Linked DNA regions of Homo sapiens. The protein of the gene in region 1 purifies or fractionates together with the protein of each later gene. This does not show direct contact. Each region holds a gene or a part of one and is shown in the gene's direction. Other genes may lie near its edges. The genes, in order: SERPINA10 and NADK.

Evidence for each region.
Region 2: the proteins of SERPINA10 (region 1) and NADK purify together in Homo sapiens (affinity purification with mass spectrometry; one large-scale study listed by BioGRID and IntAct). This does not show direct contact.

What each region holds. Positions count from the first base shown.
Region 1 is NC_000014.9:94,279,960-94,283,268, reverse strand, and holds the end of SERPINA10 (protein Z-dependent protease inhibitor precursor), read left to right. Parts: 3' UTR 1-2,809; downstream 2,810-3,309. UniProt on the Homo sapiens protein: Inhibits activity of the coagulation protease factor Xa in the presence of PROZ, calcium and phospholipids. Also inhibits factor XIa in the absence of cofactors.
Region 2 is NC_000001.11:1,764,764-1,768,794, reverse strand, and holds part of NADK (NAD kinase), read left to right. Parts: intron 1-3,348; 5' UTR 3,349-3,388; coding exon 3,389-3,567; intron 3,568-4,031.

The sequences.
Region 1 (3,309 bases):
ACCTTAGTTACTTGGCTAAAGACTAGCTGGGTAGAATATCTTTTCTCTGTTGCTCACATATTTTCATTTTTAAAAAGTTGCAGATGAGAACACTATGTCAAGATAAAGCCTTTGGGAGGAACACATGTAAACATTCTCCTTGAGTCATGTGCTTCTCTCTCTTTCCTTCTCTCTGGTGCAAAATAAGTGTTTTATTTTAATCTATTACGGAGTCATTTCTTGCTGACTGACATCAGAAGAAAATAGCTCTAACCAGTCCTGATCACAGCATCTGCTTCCATGGTGCATCAAATCGCTTGGCAGAGGCATTGGCTGAATCACAGATCATCTAGTTCAATACCTTCATTTTACAAAGGAAAGAAAGAGGGACCCAGAAACAGGTCCATATTCTTACTTTCATGGGCCCTAGGCACGTTTAACCTTGTAGACTCCTCCTTCCTTCATGAAGATATATATGTTCTATGGCTGCATTGGTAGAAAGATGAATATATTCGTCTTTCAAAGTTGCATATCTAGCTTCAAAGTTATATGTCTAGCATATGGCAATAAGCAAAACACCTTCATGGGCCCTTACAGTACTGTCAGCCTTGGGCACTGTGTCTTCTGCATCTAGTGGATAAGTCATACCTTATATACCAGTGGGAACAAAATACTTGTCCAAGGTCTTCCAGTGTGGCAATGGCAGAGTCAGAAGCCTACCTTTCCTGAGTCTAGTCTCCAAGCCCTTTTTACTCTTCCTTCCATCTAAAACATCTGATGGGGACCAGGTAAACAGCATGCACTACAGCTACCCATGGGGGTTAAACAGAATATAAGCATGAACTTTGTCCCAGGGTGAAAAGGAAAATCGTAAATATCCCTGATCTTCCTTAGGCAGTTATTTTCTGTCACAGAAACAGAAAAGACTATATTCAGAGAATCCTGAATAGAGCTGATTTACAGTGTGAACTATGTTAACTAAATGCCTAATTGGATTTCTGTCTGTCTGCTATCTAATGTTTAAAAAAACCTAAAATTCATTTATTGATTAGTTGTTTAATATAATTCAGAGTAATGTGAATAGGTAATAATATTAATATGCAGTCTAAATACTGACTTTTCATCATTCCATAACCTGGACTGATGAAAAGTCAGTATTTAGACTGCATATTAATAAAATAAAATTCATTCCTGTATTCATTCCAAGAGTACTAATTGACACTTATGAAGGGACAGGCAATTCTAGGCCCTAGAGGGCCAAAGACAGAGGACTAACTCTATCTGACATTCTTAAGTCACCTTGTTTGTGTTCAATTAGTCAGATTTGTTTGTGGAAAAATAGTAGAAAGAGGAATAAAGTAGCATCCAGTCCAATTTCCCACTTTTAAGAGATGAAATCTGGAAAAATAAGTCTGTGAGAGCACAATACTCACTGAAATCAATATGGCCAAACCCAGTAATAAAAAGGTACATTATTATTGAAGGATTCATATAGCATGCAGATAAAAAACTCCTGCCTTCTTCCCACCACATACACTGCAAAGCAACAACAGCATAATAATTGTATTTAATATACTACTCTTTAAGGTAGAAAATGGACCTATTCTATATTTTAAATATACTTTTTAATGTTCCCTCACATTTGCTTTAAGAAGTTCCTAAGACACTCAGTTTCAGATTTCCCAAGTACACAGGCATGACAGAAAAACGCAGACCAATAAAAAATGTAACTTACCTTACACAAATACATACACACAAATTCAGGGTTTCCAACCGAGCGGGGGAAATCTTAACATTGTAGAAGTCTTCACTATATATGTGTCGAGTTTTTGTTTTTGTTTTTGTTTTTGTTTTGAGACAGAGTCTTGCTCTGTCACCCAGGCTGGAGTGCAGTGGTGCGATCTCAGCTCACTGCAACCTCCACCTCCCGGGTTCGTGCCATTCTCCTGCCTCAGCCTCCCGAGTAGCTGGGACTACAGGCACCTGCCACCACGACCGGCTAATTTTTTGTATTTTAAGTAGAGATGGGGTTTCACTGTGTTAGTCAGGATGGTCTTGATCTCCTGACCTTGTGATCTGCCCGCCTCGGCCTCCCAAAGTGCTGGGATTACAGGCATGAGCCACCACGCCCGGCCAAGTGTCGAGTCTTAAAAATTGTTCCTACACAGACACACTCAACCACACGTTCTCACATATATATGCTGTAACAACTGAGAACAGGTTACTGACTTAATCTAATTCATTCTATCTTCATTGTAAAACTTCCACTCCAGCTGAAGAGCCTGTTTCATTTCAATTCAAAGATTTCTCATATATCCACTAATTGTATGGCAAAACTGACTCATCTCCAGACTAAGATATTCAAGCTCAGGAAGTCAAATAATAGAAATGATTTTTTAAATGTGTAAGAGGTTATAAAGAAAAACTTTATGTGCTCCTTATTTAACCTCTATTAAGTAAAATCCTTTATAGACCTATCTCCATTTCTGCAGTAAAAGTGAGCTCTACAGTTAGCTTGTAAGGCTAACTAGTGAAATTCCTGGACTTGTTCTTAAAAATGCAAGTTTTAGTAATTAACAAAATGATGATGAAGATGTCCCTTTTCCCTACAACTACAGATGGAGGGAGATTTTTCTTTGCCATACAACTAGCTTAAAGGATTAATTTGATAAGTTGTTAAACTGAGAACTTTCACAAAAGTATCCATCTTGTTTTTGATATAAATGGAGATACATGTAGTTATTCATAACTGTCAGTAATTTGCTGTTTATCCTGTTTCTATATATCTGTCCTTGAGAGTATAATTTTAATAAATATTTCAAAGATTTTAGGAAATGTCATGTTCTGTTAAAAAACTTCCAAAAGTAATTTTGATGAACAGTTTTGATAACTTAGTACTAACTAGGACTAAGACTGCAATTGACTGCTCTACATTCCTGAACTTTATAAGCAGTAGTTGTTTCTCTCTGTCAAATCAGTGTCCCCTTTTCCCATTTGCATCATGGGAAAGTGAAACCTTATAATTCTGCTAAATTTATTATAACAAATACATTGAAATTCTCCATTTTATTAAATTAATAGAATGTTATGAATCAAAGCACCAAAAAAACTGATGCAATTTTGATGTCTCGTTCTGTACCACATTCTCCAGATCTTAATATATTCAGTTCCACATTATTGGTGCTAGTAGGAGACATAATGAAAACAGTTAAATGAAATCCACAGCGAGTATACTGATTAACCAGTACTGTCAAATTTCTCATACCTATTGAATTTTAACTACTGACAAAATGAGCAGTAACAATTCCATTTACCTGATTGTCCTTTGGC
Region 2 (4,031 bases), on another chromosome or scaffold:
TGCTGTAACAAAGTGCCACAGGCATGGGGCAGGGGGCGGGTAAACAACAAAAATGTTTGTTCTCAGAGCTCTGGAGGCCAAGAGTCCAAGGTCAGGGTCCCAGCTAATTTGGTTCATCGTAAAGACTCTCTTTCTCACTGTAATGGCCATCTTCTCTGTGTCCCCACATGGCTTTACTTTTGTGCCCAGTGAGGGTGGGAACAGAGGTGAGGAGAGAGCTCTCTGGTGTTCTGTTTTGTTTTTGAGACAGGGTCTCTATTGCCTAGGCTGGAGTGCAACAGCACAATCACAGTTCACTGCAAAACCTCAAACTCCTGGGCTCATTGATCCTCTTGCCGGAGCCTCCAAGTACCTGGGACTGCAGGCATGCACCACTGTGTCCAACTGTTTTTGTTTTGGTTTTGTTTTTGTTTTTGTTTTGTAGAGACAGAATCCTGCTATGTTGCCCAGGCTGTTCCTGAACTCCTGGCCTCAAGTGATCCTCTTACCTCAGCCTCCCAAAGCCCTGGGATTACATGAGTGAGCCACCGTGCCTAGCCTGGTGTCTCTTCTTACAAGGATGCTCATTCTGTCTGATCAGACCCCACACTTATGACCTCATTTTTTCTTTTTTTTTTTTTTTTGAGACGGAGTTTTGCTCTTGTGGCCCAGGCTGGAGTGCAGTGGCACAATCTCGGCTCACTGCAACCTCTGCCTCCTGGGTTCAAGCATTTCTCCTGCCTCAGCGTCCCAAGTAGCTAGGATTACAGGCGCCCGCCACCACGCCCGGCTAATTTTTGTATTTTTTAGGGACAGAGTTTCACTATGTTGGTCAGGCTGGTCTTGAGCTCCTGACCTCAGATGATCTGCCCGCCTCAGCCTCCCACAGTGTTAGGATTACAGATGTGTGCCACCGCGCCCATTTAACTCCTTTCTTAGAGGCCCACCTCCATATTCAGCCACACTGGAAGTTAGGGCTTCAATGTAGGAATTTGGGGGGATTGCTGGGTGGAGTGGCTCACACCTATAGTCCAAGCACTTTGGGAAGCCAAGGCAGGAGGATCACCTGAGCCCAGGAGTTTGAGACCAGCCTAGGCAACACAGAGAGACCTTGTCTCTACAAAATAAAAATAAAAAATAAATTTGGGGAGGACACATTCAGTCCATAATGTCACATTTATCCTTTTTAATGCCAGAATCTACCTTGTCCTCATTAAGATTTATCTTCTTTAATGAGAAGGTATGTTTGGCTTTATTTTGTGTGTTTAGCCTCTGTTGAGTGATTTTTATTGTTTCTGTGCACGGCCCCTCTTCTGTTCTTCTGAAGCTTGTTTTATTCTATTTCTGGCTTTATTGGCTTGAATGCTCAGTTCATGGTTTCCCATGGGCTGTGACCCAGCTTTGATGGGATTGAACCGACCCTGGCAGCCTGTTTATGTCACCTCCAGCTTCTGGGTGTTCCAGATGTTGGGTCTGATCTTCACTTTGATCCCTGGGTTGCTTAAGAGAAAGTTCAGAAACTTCCAAGTGGCTGAGGGCTTTTCTTTGTTTCTATCTCTTCCTGGTTTTATTGTATTGTGGTCAGAAGATGAGGTTCTAGGCTGGGCGTGGTGGCTTACGCCTGTAATCCCAGCACTTCGGGATGCTGAGGCGGGCAGATCATTTGAGGTCAAGAGTTGGAGACCAGCCTGGCCAACATGGTGAAACCCCATCTCTACTAAAAATTCAAAAAAATTAGCTGAGCGTGGTGGCGCACGCCTGTAGTCCCAGCTGCTAGGGAGGCTGAAGCAGGAAAATCACTTGAACCCGGGAAGCAGACGTTGCAGTGAGCTGCGATCACACCACTGCACTCCAGCGTGGGCGACAGAGTGAGACTCTGTCTCAAAAAAAAAAAGATGAGGTTCTAGGCCAGGCATGGTGGCTCATGCCTATAATCCTAGCACTGTGTTGGGAGGCTGAGTTGGGAGGATCACTTGAGGCCAGGAATTGAAGACCAGCCTGGGCAACAGAGCAAGACACCCTGTCTCTACCAAAGGAAAAAAAATTAGCTGGACGTGGTGCTGTACTCCTGTAGTCCCAGCTACTTGGAAGGCTGAGGTGGGATCCTGTCTCAAAAAAAAAAAAAGAAAAAGAAAAAGGGGAAAAAAGGGTGAGGTTTTCTATCCTCACCAGTTTTCTTTGAGGCTTAATATTGGTCAGTTTGGTAAATATTTCATTGGCGCTGAATTCACGATGCAAGGCATGGAGTTCACAACATATCTGCTGGTTCAATTTTATTTGACAGCTTTTCTGGACTAGGGTATTTGAAATTGCACACTTTCTCTCTCATTAATGTGTTGTATTGTTTACGAGAAAAGAGCCTGTCTTTTTTTTTTTTTTTTTTTTTTTTTTTTTTTTTTTTTTTTGAGACGGAGTTTCTTTCGTTCTTGTTGCCCAGGCTGGAGTGCAGTGGCACAATCTCAGCTCACCACAACCTCCGCTTCCCGGGTTCAAGCGATTCTCCTGCCTCAACCTCCCAAGTAGCTGGGATTACAGACATGCGCAACCACGCCCAGCTAATTTTGTAATTTTAATAGAGATGGGGGTTTCTCCATGTTGGTCAGGCTGGTCTCAAACTCCCGACCTCAGGTGAGCCACCGCACCTGGCCAGAGTCTTTCTTTTCTTAAGACAGGGTCTCGCTCATGGGCTACCATGCCCGGCTAATTTTTTTTTTGCTAGAGAAGAGTTCTTTGTTGCCCAGAGTGGTCTTGAACCCCTGGCCTCAACTGATCCTTTCTCTCCAGCCTCCCAAAGTGCTGGGATTACAGGCATGAGCCACCACACCTGGCCACACAGTGTGACTTTCTATTTTGTTCTTTTTTGAAACAATTTTTTTTGTTAATATTATTTTACAGAAAAAATTTTGAGATGAAGTTTCACTCTAGTCACCCAGGCTGGAGTGCAATGGCATGATCTCGACTTACTGCAGCCTCCACCTCCTGGGTTCAAGCGATTCTCCTGCCTCAGTCTACCGAGTAGCTAGGACTACAGGCGCCCACCACAGCTAATTTTTGTATTTTTAGTAGAGACGGGATTTCACCATATTGGTCAGGCGAGGCTGGTTTCGAACTCCTGGCCTCAAGTGATCTGCCCGCCTCTACCTCCCAAAGTGCTGGGATGACAGGCGTGAGCCACGGCACCCAGCCAAAAACCTAGAGTAGTTCTTAAATATCTTTGCAATGGAAACAGTCTGTTTTCAAAGTACTTTGGTAAATTGGACTTCAGCCATTTTTTCCCCTTGATGAAATGGAACATATGTATGTGTAAATTATTATTGTTTCATACATATTTATTTACTTTATTTACATTATTTATTTTATTAAATTAAGGCATCAGTGTTTTTCTGACCGAAGTTCTCATTTCCTGACAATGGAAATGGAACAAGAAAAAATGACCATGAATAAGGAATTGAGTCCAGACGCGGCTGCTTACTGCTGCTCGGCCTGCCACGGCGATGAGACCTGGAGTTACAACCACCCCATCCGGGGCCGGGCCAAGTCTCGCAGCCTGTCTGCCTCGCCCGCCCTGGGGAGCACCAAGGAGTTCAGGTACAACTGGGAGGGATGGTTCCTCTTTTTTTTCTCGTCTGATTTCATAATATTCTTTCTTAAAACGATTATGAAGAATTCTCCTGAGTAGTCTGCGTCGATGCATCCGGAAGGTGAGGCTGGGTCCTTGCCCAGGTGAAGCTGTGCCCTTGAAGGGGGATCCTGGCCCATGGACACCTGCCTGGCGCACGTTCCCAGGTGCCAGCACAGGCACAGGGTGCCACCGTGTTTCTCTATCTGTCTGTATCAGCACAGAACCATCTAACTGGCGCCTACGCTGACCCTTGATGTTAGACTGAAGCGCACTTGGAGAGGAAACTTTTTTTTGAGACTGAGTCTCGCTCTGTCCCCCAAGCTGGAGTGCAGTGGCGCAATCTTGGCTCACTGCAACCTCCGCCTCCCAGGTTCAAGTGATTCTCCTGCCTCATCCTCCCAAGAAGCTGGGATTACAGGCGTGCACCACC